Linked DNA regions of Homo sapiens: region 1 is linked to region 2. The links come from fine-mapping of genetic effects on gene expression. A gene starts in region 2. The other region holds a variant in brackets. All regions are shown on one strand. Distances are from middle to middle.

Region 1 (5,000 bases), 51 kb after region 2:
TGATTTTTTTTTTGAGACAGAGTCTTGCTCTGTTGCCCAGGCTGAAGGGCAGTGGTGCAATCTTGGCTCACTACAAGCTCCGCCTCCCGGGTTCACACCATTCTCCTGCCTCAGCCTCCCAAGTAGCTGGAACTACAGCCATCTGCAACCACACCCAGCTAATTTTTGTATTTTTAGTAGAGACAGGGTTTCACTATGTTAGCCAGGACGGTCTCGATCTCCTGACCTCGTGATCCACTCGCCTTGGCCTCCCAAAGTGCTGGGATTACAGGCATGAGCCACCGCGCCCGGCCCAGAATGATCTTTTTTAAAAAAATTTTTGTAGAGACAGGGTCTCACTCTGTTGCCCAGGCTGGTCTCAAACTCCTGGGCTCAAGCAATCCTCCTGCCTCGGCCTCCCAAAGTGTTGGGATTATGGGCGTGAGCCACTGCACCTGGCTCTGAATGATCTTTAAAAAACATATCTGGCTGGGCGCGCTGGCTCACACTTGTAATCCCAGCACTTTCAGAGACCAAGGCAGGCAGATCACTTGAGGTCAGCAGTTCGGGACAAGCCTGGCCAACATGGTGAAGCCCCGTCTTTAATACAAAAATTAGTCGGGCATGGTGGTGCATGCCTGCAGTCCCAGCTACTCGGGAGGCTGAGGCAGGAGAATCACCTGGACCCAGAAGGCAGAGGTTGCAGTGAGCCAAGATCGCACCACTGCGCTCTAGCCCGGGCAACAGAGCAAGAATTTGTCTCCAGAAAAAAAATGTTCACAAGTGTTATTCATAATAGCCCCAAATAGAAACAATCCAAGTATCAATCAACAAGAGAATGGATATATGCAATTTAGTATATATTCATACAAATGGGAACACCAAACAGCAATAGAATTAGAGGAGATACAACTACACACAAGAATGAATCTCATACACATAATGTTGAGTGAAAGAGGCCAGACACAAAAGGAATACACAAAACGTACGTATAACTCCACTCACATAGTAAGCAAAAAACATGTAAGGTACATTATGGTGTTACAGGTCAGGCAGTGACTGAAAGAAAGCACAAAGGGAGCTTCTGGCTGCTAGTAATGTTCTGGCTGTTTTTTTTATAACTGAGCATTTGATACAGAGGTATTTCACTTGGTGAAAATTCATCAAGCTATACACCTATTCGTGTACTTTTTCATAGTTATTTTACTTCAGTTGTGATTTTAAAAACAGACACACACACAATGTATTCTCTAATGTGGTCTACATATATCTGACACTAGTCATCTCTCCAACTACTCAGCCTCCAACGTTCAGAGCTCTTTCTTCAACAGTTCCAATTTGCTAGTGTCCTTCTTGTCTTAGAGCCAAGCAAAGTATTCTTAACCTAATTCACCCTTTGAGTTTCAGTTTGACTCCCTCTCCATGAGACCTTCCTTGACTTCCTAATCAAAACTGGATTCTCCAAATTTAGGTTTCACAAGGCTTACTTAGTACCTGACTCTCCTACTGAACTGTAAACTCCATGAGGCTCATCTAAGGCAGCGTATGGCATTTAGCAGAAGGCATTAAAATACCTATTGAATGTTAATTTTGAACAAACACATACCATTTTAATAACAGAAAATAAACAAATATACAAGAGAAATTAACTGAAATCTGGAATAGTCAATAATATTAGCCTTTCTGAGCAAATTAGCATTGGTATAGTAGCAAACTATATCAATGGAATTTATATTAAACCTCAGTTCTGTCCTCACTTAGGAGAGTCATTAGTTTGCTTTCTGTTAGCTTGCTTTGTGGCTATGTAGGGCACAAGGTGATGCTATACTCAAATGAGATGTTTTCCTAAATCCTGTATTAACAAAAGGGATTATAATTTTAAGCAACCAACTAAAAGAATTACCAGATTAGTACTTTTGACATATGTAGCAAATTTTCTTTTTGGGCCAGGCGCGGTAGCTCACACCTGTAATCCCAGCACTTTGGGAGGCCAAGGTGGGCGAATCACAAGGTCAGGAGTTCGAGACCAGCCTGGCTAACACGGTGAAACCCCGTCTCTACTAAACATACAAAAAATTAACTGGGCGTAGTGGTATGCACCTGAGGCAGGAGAATCACTTGCACCCAGGAGGTGGAGGTTGCAGTGAGCCGAGATCGCGCCACTGCACTCCAGCCCTCGGGACAGAGTGAGACTCTGTTTAAAAAAAAAAAAAATTTTTTTTTCTTTTTGACACGTTTTAATCTTTTCTGGCAAAATTACAAATAACAAACTCGAATTTTAACCAGAAAACTAATTTTAATCAGAAAACTATTCTGAACTAATTTAGAAAAAAGAGAATGAAAATCATCAGTGATAGGTCACACACACTGTCCATTCCTAGGTGGCTTTCGTACTCCAAGTCTTAAACTCAAAATGGTAAATTCTGAAATACTGTAGTACATTTCCTCTAAGGGCTACAGAAATGAGAA[T/C]GTATAGCAGCTTAAAATCATGCAGCTCACATTTACTAATCGAATATGTGCTGAGCTAGCAGGGTACAGGGGTTGTGTGGGAGGAGCAATCATGAAAGGGTAGAAGACAACATCTTCAAGTAGCAGTCTATTTTAGATGGAAAACAAAATCAGTTATATTGAAGGATAATGCTAATTGGCAGAGAGAGCAATAAGAATGAGCTCTCCTTCCTTATGACATCCACATTTATAACTCATTTGAGTTATAAAACAGAGATAGAAAAATTAAAATTAATTCTTTTTTTTTTTTTTTTTTTTTTTTGAGACAGAGTCTCACTCTGTCACCCAGGCTGGAGTGCAGTGGTATGATCTCAGCTGACTGCAACTTCTGCCTCATGGGCTCAAGCAAGCCTCCCACCTCAAGCCTCCCAAGTAGCTGGGACTACAGGCGTGAGCCACAACACCTGGCTCGTTTTTATATTTTTTGTAGAGACAGGGTTTCTGCCACATTGCCCAGGCCAGGCGCAAACTCCTGGGCTCAAGTGATCCACCCGCCTCAGCCTCCCAAAATGCTGGGATTACAGGCGTGAGCCACCTTGCTTGGCCTTAAAATTAATTTTCTCATTCCTCCTGACACTTCCCAGAGCTACTTAAAAGAAAAATGAGATTTGAAAACTATAAAAATTGTTTTACAGAGAAAAGGAAATATTATAACTTTTTTCCACATGCATATACCTAAACACACAGAGTTCCACTTGGGATTTGAAAGCTGACATTAAAAGATCAAATCGCCAGGCGCGGTGGCTCACGCGTGTAATCCCAGCAGTTTGGGAGGCCGAAGCAGGAGGATCACAAGGTCAGGAGATCGAGACCATCCTGACTAACACGGTGAAACCCCATCTCTACAAAAACAGAACAAATTTGCCAGACGTGGTGGCATGCACTTGTAGTCCCAGCTATGCGGGAGGCTGAGGCAGCAGAATCGCTTGAACCCAGGAGGCAGAAGTTGCAGTGAGCCGAGATCTTGCCACTGCACTCCAGCCTGGGCGACAGAGTGAGATTCTGCCTCAAAAAAAAAAAAAAAAAAATCAAATCCCAAAGTTAAATAAAATTTTGATAGAACTAAAATTGCCACCAATTAAAATGGTATAAACCAAGTTCATTTTATAAAATTTCACAATTAACACCATAATGATAAACAGTGTTTTGACACCATTCCTTAAATATTTAAATTCCTAACCATTAAAAATATGTGAAAAACTACGTGCTATCCTCTATTATTTTCTGGATGCAAGAAATATTTCATAATTTTAAAAAAAGTAGCAGAACACAGTGGCTCACACCTGTAATCCTAGCACTTTGGGAAGCTGAAGCAGGAGGATCACTTGAGCCCAGAAGTTCAAGACCAGCTTCGTCAATACAGCTAGACCCCCATATCTACAAAAATTTAAAAAATTAGCCCAGCATAGTGGTGTGTGCCTGCAGTCCCAGCTACTTGGGAGGCTGAACCCAGGAGGTCGAGGCTGCAGTAAGCCACTGACTGGGCGGCAGAGCAAGAGCTTGTCTCAAAAAAAAAAAAAAAAAAAAAAAAGATATTTTTAAATACAATCAAAACACTAAAATTGGAAGCAATCAAATGGCATTTTTAAAAAGCCTAGTATAGCATATGCAAAAAAGTAATAGGTTGAGTAATAAATTACTGCACTTTAACCAGTTATTCCATGACAATATGGCATTGGGTTAACATTCAGGTTTTTTTTTTTTTTGAGATGGAGTCTCGCTCTTTCGCCCAGGCCGGAGTGCAGTGGCGCTAGCTCGGCTCACTGCAAGCTCCGCCTCCCGGGTTCATGCCATTCTCCTGCCTCAGCCTCCCGAGTAGCTGGGACTACAGGTGCCCGCCACCGCGCCTGGCTAATTTTTCGTATTTTTAGTGGAGACGGGGTTTCACCGTGTTAGCCAGGATGCTCTTGATCTCCTGACCTCGTGATCCGCCCGCCTCGGCCTCCCAAAGTGCACCACGCCCGACCAACATTCAGTTTTTTTACATTAGGGCATATCGAAAATGAACTAGTCAGCCAGGCACAGTGGCTCACACCTGTAATCCCAACACTTTGGGAGGACAAGGCGGGCGGATCACTTGAGGTCAGGAGTTTGAGACCAGTCTGGCCAACATGGCGAAACCCCGTCTCCACTAAAAATACAAAAAAAAAAAAAAAAAAAAAAAATTGGCCGGGTGTGGTGGCGCATTCCTGTAGTCCCAGCTACTCAGGAGGCGGAAGTTGCAGTGAGCCAAGATCGCGCCACTGCACTCCAGCCTGGGCGACAGAGCGAGACTCCGTCTCAAAAAATAATAATAATAATAAAAGAACTAGTCTTACTAAAAAACACCTCCAGAAAATTGTGGATATCTTACATTTTACAGGTAGAGAACAAAAAGAAAAAAATAACTGAGGAAAAAAGCTTGTCTTTTAGAAAGAACTGAAAGAGAAAGATCTCTACCCAAAGTCTCTCTTTCAAAGTTTTTTCTAAGATGTGCAACTTCTGTCATTTGAAATAAAGGGTAATGAAATTAA
Region 2 (5,000 bases):
GAGCACCTGCAGGAGCAGGCTGAGGGGAAGGTAAGTTGTCTTGACATGCTAAGGTGAGGTGTGTGTAAGAAAGACAAGTGGAGACACCTGGTAGGCAGCGAGATATATAGGTCCAGGGTGAAGGAGAGAGGTCCAGGGTAGAGACAAAGATCTGAGAGGAATACTGAATTAGTGAGGGGAGAGAGAGAATGAGACACCCCATAGACAGCACAGAATAAGGCAGCAAGGTGACGCAGGACAAAGCCTTTAAGTACCTCAACTTTTTGGGTTATGAGTAGGCAAAAGAGATTGAGAAGTGACAGCTTCTTGTCCTGATTGCTAAGCTAAGTGGAAATCTGACACCTTAACCACATGGCTATATCAGAGTGTAGTAATGCACCATCTTCTGTAGCCCCTCCTGCCATGCTGAAAAATCATTCTAGTAAATTCAACATCTGGACCAATCCCAGTCAAAGGAGATGAAAAATCACCTGGCACACAGACCCAATGAAGTATCTAAGGATTCTCCACCAGAAGAAAATCTAGTGCTGACAAACCCATGTCTTTATTCTATCTTCTTACAGGAAGCAGCAAAGACATTTACATTTTCAGGTGAATTGGAATAGCTGCAGAAAATAAGAATTTATCAATATTTGAATACAATAAGGCAAATTATCTCATCCAAATTACCTTATGCCTTCAAATAATATAAAATAATGGAAAATTGTTCTTTAATGGGTAAACTATTGTTTGAGTTTCAACTCTGCAAGATGAAAAAGTTCTCATCTATTTCGCGACAATGTCAATATACTTAACGCTAGTGAACTATGTGCTTAAAAACAATTAAGACTGGCTGGGTGCAGTGGCTCAGGTCTGTAATCTCAGGGCTTTGGGAGGCCATGGCAGGAGGATCCCTGGAGCCCAGAAGTTTGAGACCAGCCTGGGCAACATAGCAAGACCCCATCTCTACAAAAAATTAAAAAATTATCCAGGCATGGTGATGCACGCCTGTATTCCTAGCTACTTAGAAGGCTGAGCCAGGAGGATTGCTTGAGTCTGGGAGTTGGAGGTTACAGTGAGCTATGATCATACCACTATACTCCAGCTTGGGTAACAGAGCAAGACCCTGTCTCTAAAAAAAAAAAAGTAAAGAAAAAAAAACTAAAAAAAAGCTTAAAAGAGTAAATTTTATGTATTTTTATAATTTAAAAATAAATAATAGTATAATTACATTATTAAAATAACACATTCTCTGCTATGGTTTGAATGTCTTCTCCAAGACTCATATTGAAATTTAATTGCTATTTTAACAGTTGAGAGGTGGAACCTTTAAGAGGTGATTAGGACATGAGGAGTTTGCCTTTGTGAGTGGATTAATGCCATTATCACAGGAGTCAGTTATCACAGGAAAAAAGGATAAGTTCAGCCCCCTTTCTCTGTCTCACAGGCTCATTTGCCTTTCCACCTTCCACCATGTGATGATGCAGCCAAAGGCCCTCATCAGATCCCGGCTCAGAACCATGAGTCAAATACACCTCTATTGTTTATAAATTACTCAGTCTCAGGTATTATGTTATAACAGCAGAAAATAAAGACAGTCTCCCAGCACCAAGTAAAGTGAAAGGCCTTGCTTAACACTGGAAGAATATGTCAAAGAATAACATATACTGTGAGTTCCATCACATGTTTAGTGAAAGTACTGTACTTCTGCTCTGAAAAACATATTGTAGTCTATATTTTAGATTTACAATAGGAGGCACCAATGTCGCTTGTTGAAGTGAGACATTTCTCCTCCTATTCCTGGAGACAATTCTGGATAGCATTTCCTCAATCTCCCAGTTTCATATGGTCAGAGGAAACTCCCTTACCTCCCTAATCATCCCGAAACTCACCTTGAAAACATTCACATGCCTCTCTGTCAACGAATCCATCCAAACTTAAGTTTTGCTGAGCAAAGCCCGCTGCCACTAACTGATGCTACCTCTTCTTTTCTCTCTGGAGCCGGGGACACCCTACCTTGTTCTAGACCTTGTCATGTTCTACCTTGTATTACAGTTCACTTTCCATACACGTGTCCTCCCCCACGATACCGTTACGTTTCTTAAGAGGGGATCTGGATCTGAGTCTGGTTCCTCTTGGCAACCACCACACAGCCTAACAGCGTGGTATGAGTCGGCGCCTCCTCAATGATAAAGAATCCTAAAAGGAGTCTCCGCTGGCTTTTCACTGCCACATCCCATTCGGGGGTGGGAGAGAAACAAAGAATGCAAGAAAGAGCGGGCGTCCACCTAACAACTCAAAAAAGTCAAATCTTCCCAACACATGAGTGTCTAAACCATTCAGAGAGCAGGGCAGTAAAAGGGAAAAGGCCGCTTCTGGGACGAGGCGTTAAGAATTAATCAGATACAGTCCTAAGCCGTTTGAGGGGCTCACACACCAGCGAAGGAGGCAGACACTGAGAGGCACGATGACAACACTCGATGGGACCTCGGATCCCCAGGGGAAGGGGATGTAGCTTCCTCCCAACCAGCCTCGGCCCAGCAGACACCACCCTCTGCCGCCCTCAGTAGTTCCCGCACTCACTCTTGTCCAGAGGCCGGGTTAGCTCGGCCCCGACGTCGCCGTCGGCGCTGGGGCCCTGAGGTTTCACAGTCAGGGGCACGAACAAGGACGTGTTTGGTATTTTGGAGCCACCGGAGGCAGAGGAGGAGGCGGTGGCAAGGACAGAAACTTGCCCCAGAACCCCGGGAAAGGGCCCAAAGTGGGGACGAAGGGCAGAGCAGATGGCTGCCCGGTGGCCAGCCTGGCGCCCCGCCGGGAGCCGAGCCCACAATAGGGCACGGGAGAAGGACATCGAGGCCGCAGGTTCTACACTGTCTGGCGCAGCCGCGGACACGGCGGCGGACAGTGACGCGCACCTCCAGCGCCTGCTGTCCAGAAAGACCCAGGCCGAGCAGGTAAGCTGCCCGGGAAAACGCCTGACCGTTAAGGAAAACGCCGTGCCGTGAGGGTGTTCTTTCAGGGAAAAAGAAGATTAGCAGGCAAAACCACTAGAGATAATTCTCGTTCTCTTTCTCTGTTTTGTTGGTGATTGGGACCACCTTTCCCTAAAGAAGGGAAAATAATCAGGCATCTTTGGGATGTCATACATGAGCGGAGGGGGCCTGCTAGTCGTGTCACGTGATGCAAACTAGTACTTTGGTAAGCAAGTGTCCAGAAGCACGTGGGTGAGCAGTGAGAGAATGGGTGGTGGAGCAGCAACTGCGAATGCTCAGGGTACGAGTATGTCTTGCGGACTCAAACACTAAATAGCATTTCCCAAAAGTTTCTTGCATTGTTAACCGTCATTTCCTGATATGATAACGTTAGCGATAATAACTTGATATGCCCCTCAGAAATGTTGCTAAGAAATATTGTTGCACTATTAAACCCCTTGTATTACGTAAGTACTTTTGCTTTAATGTGAGCAGTTTGCGTACATCATCCTAGCAGCTATGACCACATAGTTGTGACCACATGGCAAAAATACGTGCTCTGTACCCCAGCCATAGTTTCGTTCCATTGCATTTGTTGAATACCGTGTTCTCATGTGAGGCTGCAACATGTTAAATTCACAAGTTTAACCCGGGCGTGGTGGTTCACGCCTGTAATCGCAGCACTTAGGGAGGGCGAGGCCGGTGGATCATCTGAGGTCAGGAGTTCGAGACCAGCCTGGCAAACATGGTGAAATCCCCTCTCTACTAAAAATACAAGAATCAGCCGGGCGTGGTGGTGCACACCTGTAATCCCAATTACTAGGGAGGCGGAGGCAGGAGAATCGTTTGAACCTGGGTGCCAGAGGTTGCAGTGAGCCGAGATCGGGCCACTGCTCTCCAGCCTGGGCAACAGAGTGAGACTCCGTCTAAAAAAAAAAAAAATTCACAAGTTTAGCATCTCCATCCACATCTCTTTATACTTACATCATTAAGATCTTACAACTTGAAGGAACGTGTTATGTAATATACAATACTGTATGTCTAATAGGATTCCAGTAACAATTTGCCACGTGCCTTTGATTCACAAAATAATTTTTAAACATCAGGGATACAAGGAGACAGTCCTTTGCTTTCAAAGGTTCTGATCTGGTTTTGGTGGTAAGAACAGTACACGTTAAATAATGCACTTATTACTCTAATAGACTAATGGCAGTTCAAAGAAAGGAGCAATTTGAGAGTGGTAAGGAGATTTCTGCCAGACTTAAAAGTAAAACATAGAGAAGCGGTAAGTAAATTCTAGTCAGTGGAAACGATGTAAGCAGAGGCTTAACTAAGGAAAAGACATACTGAAAAAAATTTAAGTAACAGAGTTAACGCAGACCTAATTCTATGGCTTACAAATAGTGATTATATTTTTGAGAAGAGAAATCATTCATTAGGAAGTACCTAGGATAGACTAGGATAAACACAAATATGCAGGGAGGAAAATTACAACTTTATCAACAGTTCTAGCTGAAGGTGGTAGATTCCTGTGTCTGAGTTATGATGGAGACCATGTATGTGGAATGAGAGGTTTTACAAGACTCCTTAGATAATGTAGTGAGTGACTAAATATGCTAGAAAATGTTAATAAACAATGATGTCTCGTCAGATTTGGAAACTAGGAGAATGAAGGATAAACCAAACGTTTAATACGTAACTGAGGCAAGCACTATGTTGTTCCTTTTAATCTTTTAATATGCTTGACAACAATTTAGAGGTATTATTGTCACCAGGTTAACTAACTTGCCCCAGTAAGTGGTAGAGTCAGATACAAATCTAAATCTTTTTTTTTTCTTTTTTTTGAGACAGTCTCACTCTGTTGCCCAGGCTGAAGTGCAGTGGTGCAATCATAACTCACTGCAACGTCCACCTCCCAGGCTCAAGCAATTCTCATGCCTCAGCCTCCCGAGTAGCTGGGACTACAGGCTTGCACCACAATACCTGGCTAATTTTTGTATTCTCTTTAGTTTCACCATGTTGGCCAGGCTGGTCTCAGAACTCCTG

Evidence for each region. PIP is the estimated chance that this variant, and not a neighbour inherited with it, causes the effect.
Region 1: its variant is fine-mapped to the expression of SUPV3L1 in lung (TOPMed, PIP 0.91).

What each region holds. Positions count from the first base shown.
Region 1 is chr10:69,126,746-69,131,745 of GRCh38, reverse strand. The region is part of intron 1 of VPS26A (VPS26 retromer complex component A); the gene reads right to left. Among named protein-coding and RNA genes, the nearest start is that of VPS26A, 5.1 kb to the right of the region's middle. The variant T/C (reference allele first, on the strand shown) is at 2,449.
Region 2 is chr10:69,178,125-69,183,124 of GRCh38, reverse strand. SUPV3L1 (Suv3 like RNA helicase) reads right to left here and starts at 2,891. Exons shown (of 15, transcript NM_003171.5): 1 at 2,563-2,891. The coding sequence starts at 2,833. RefSeq lists an enhancer at 2,807-3,176.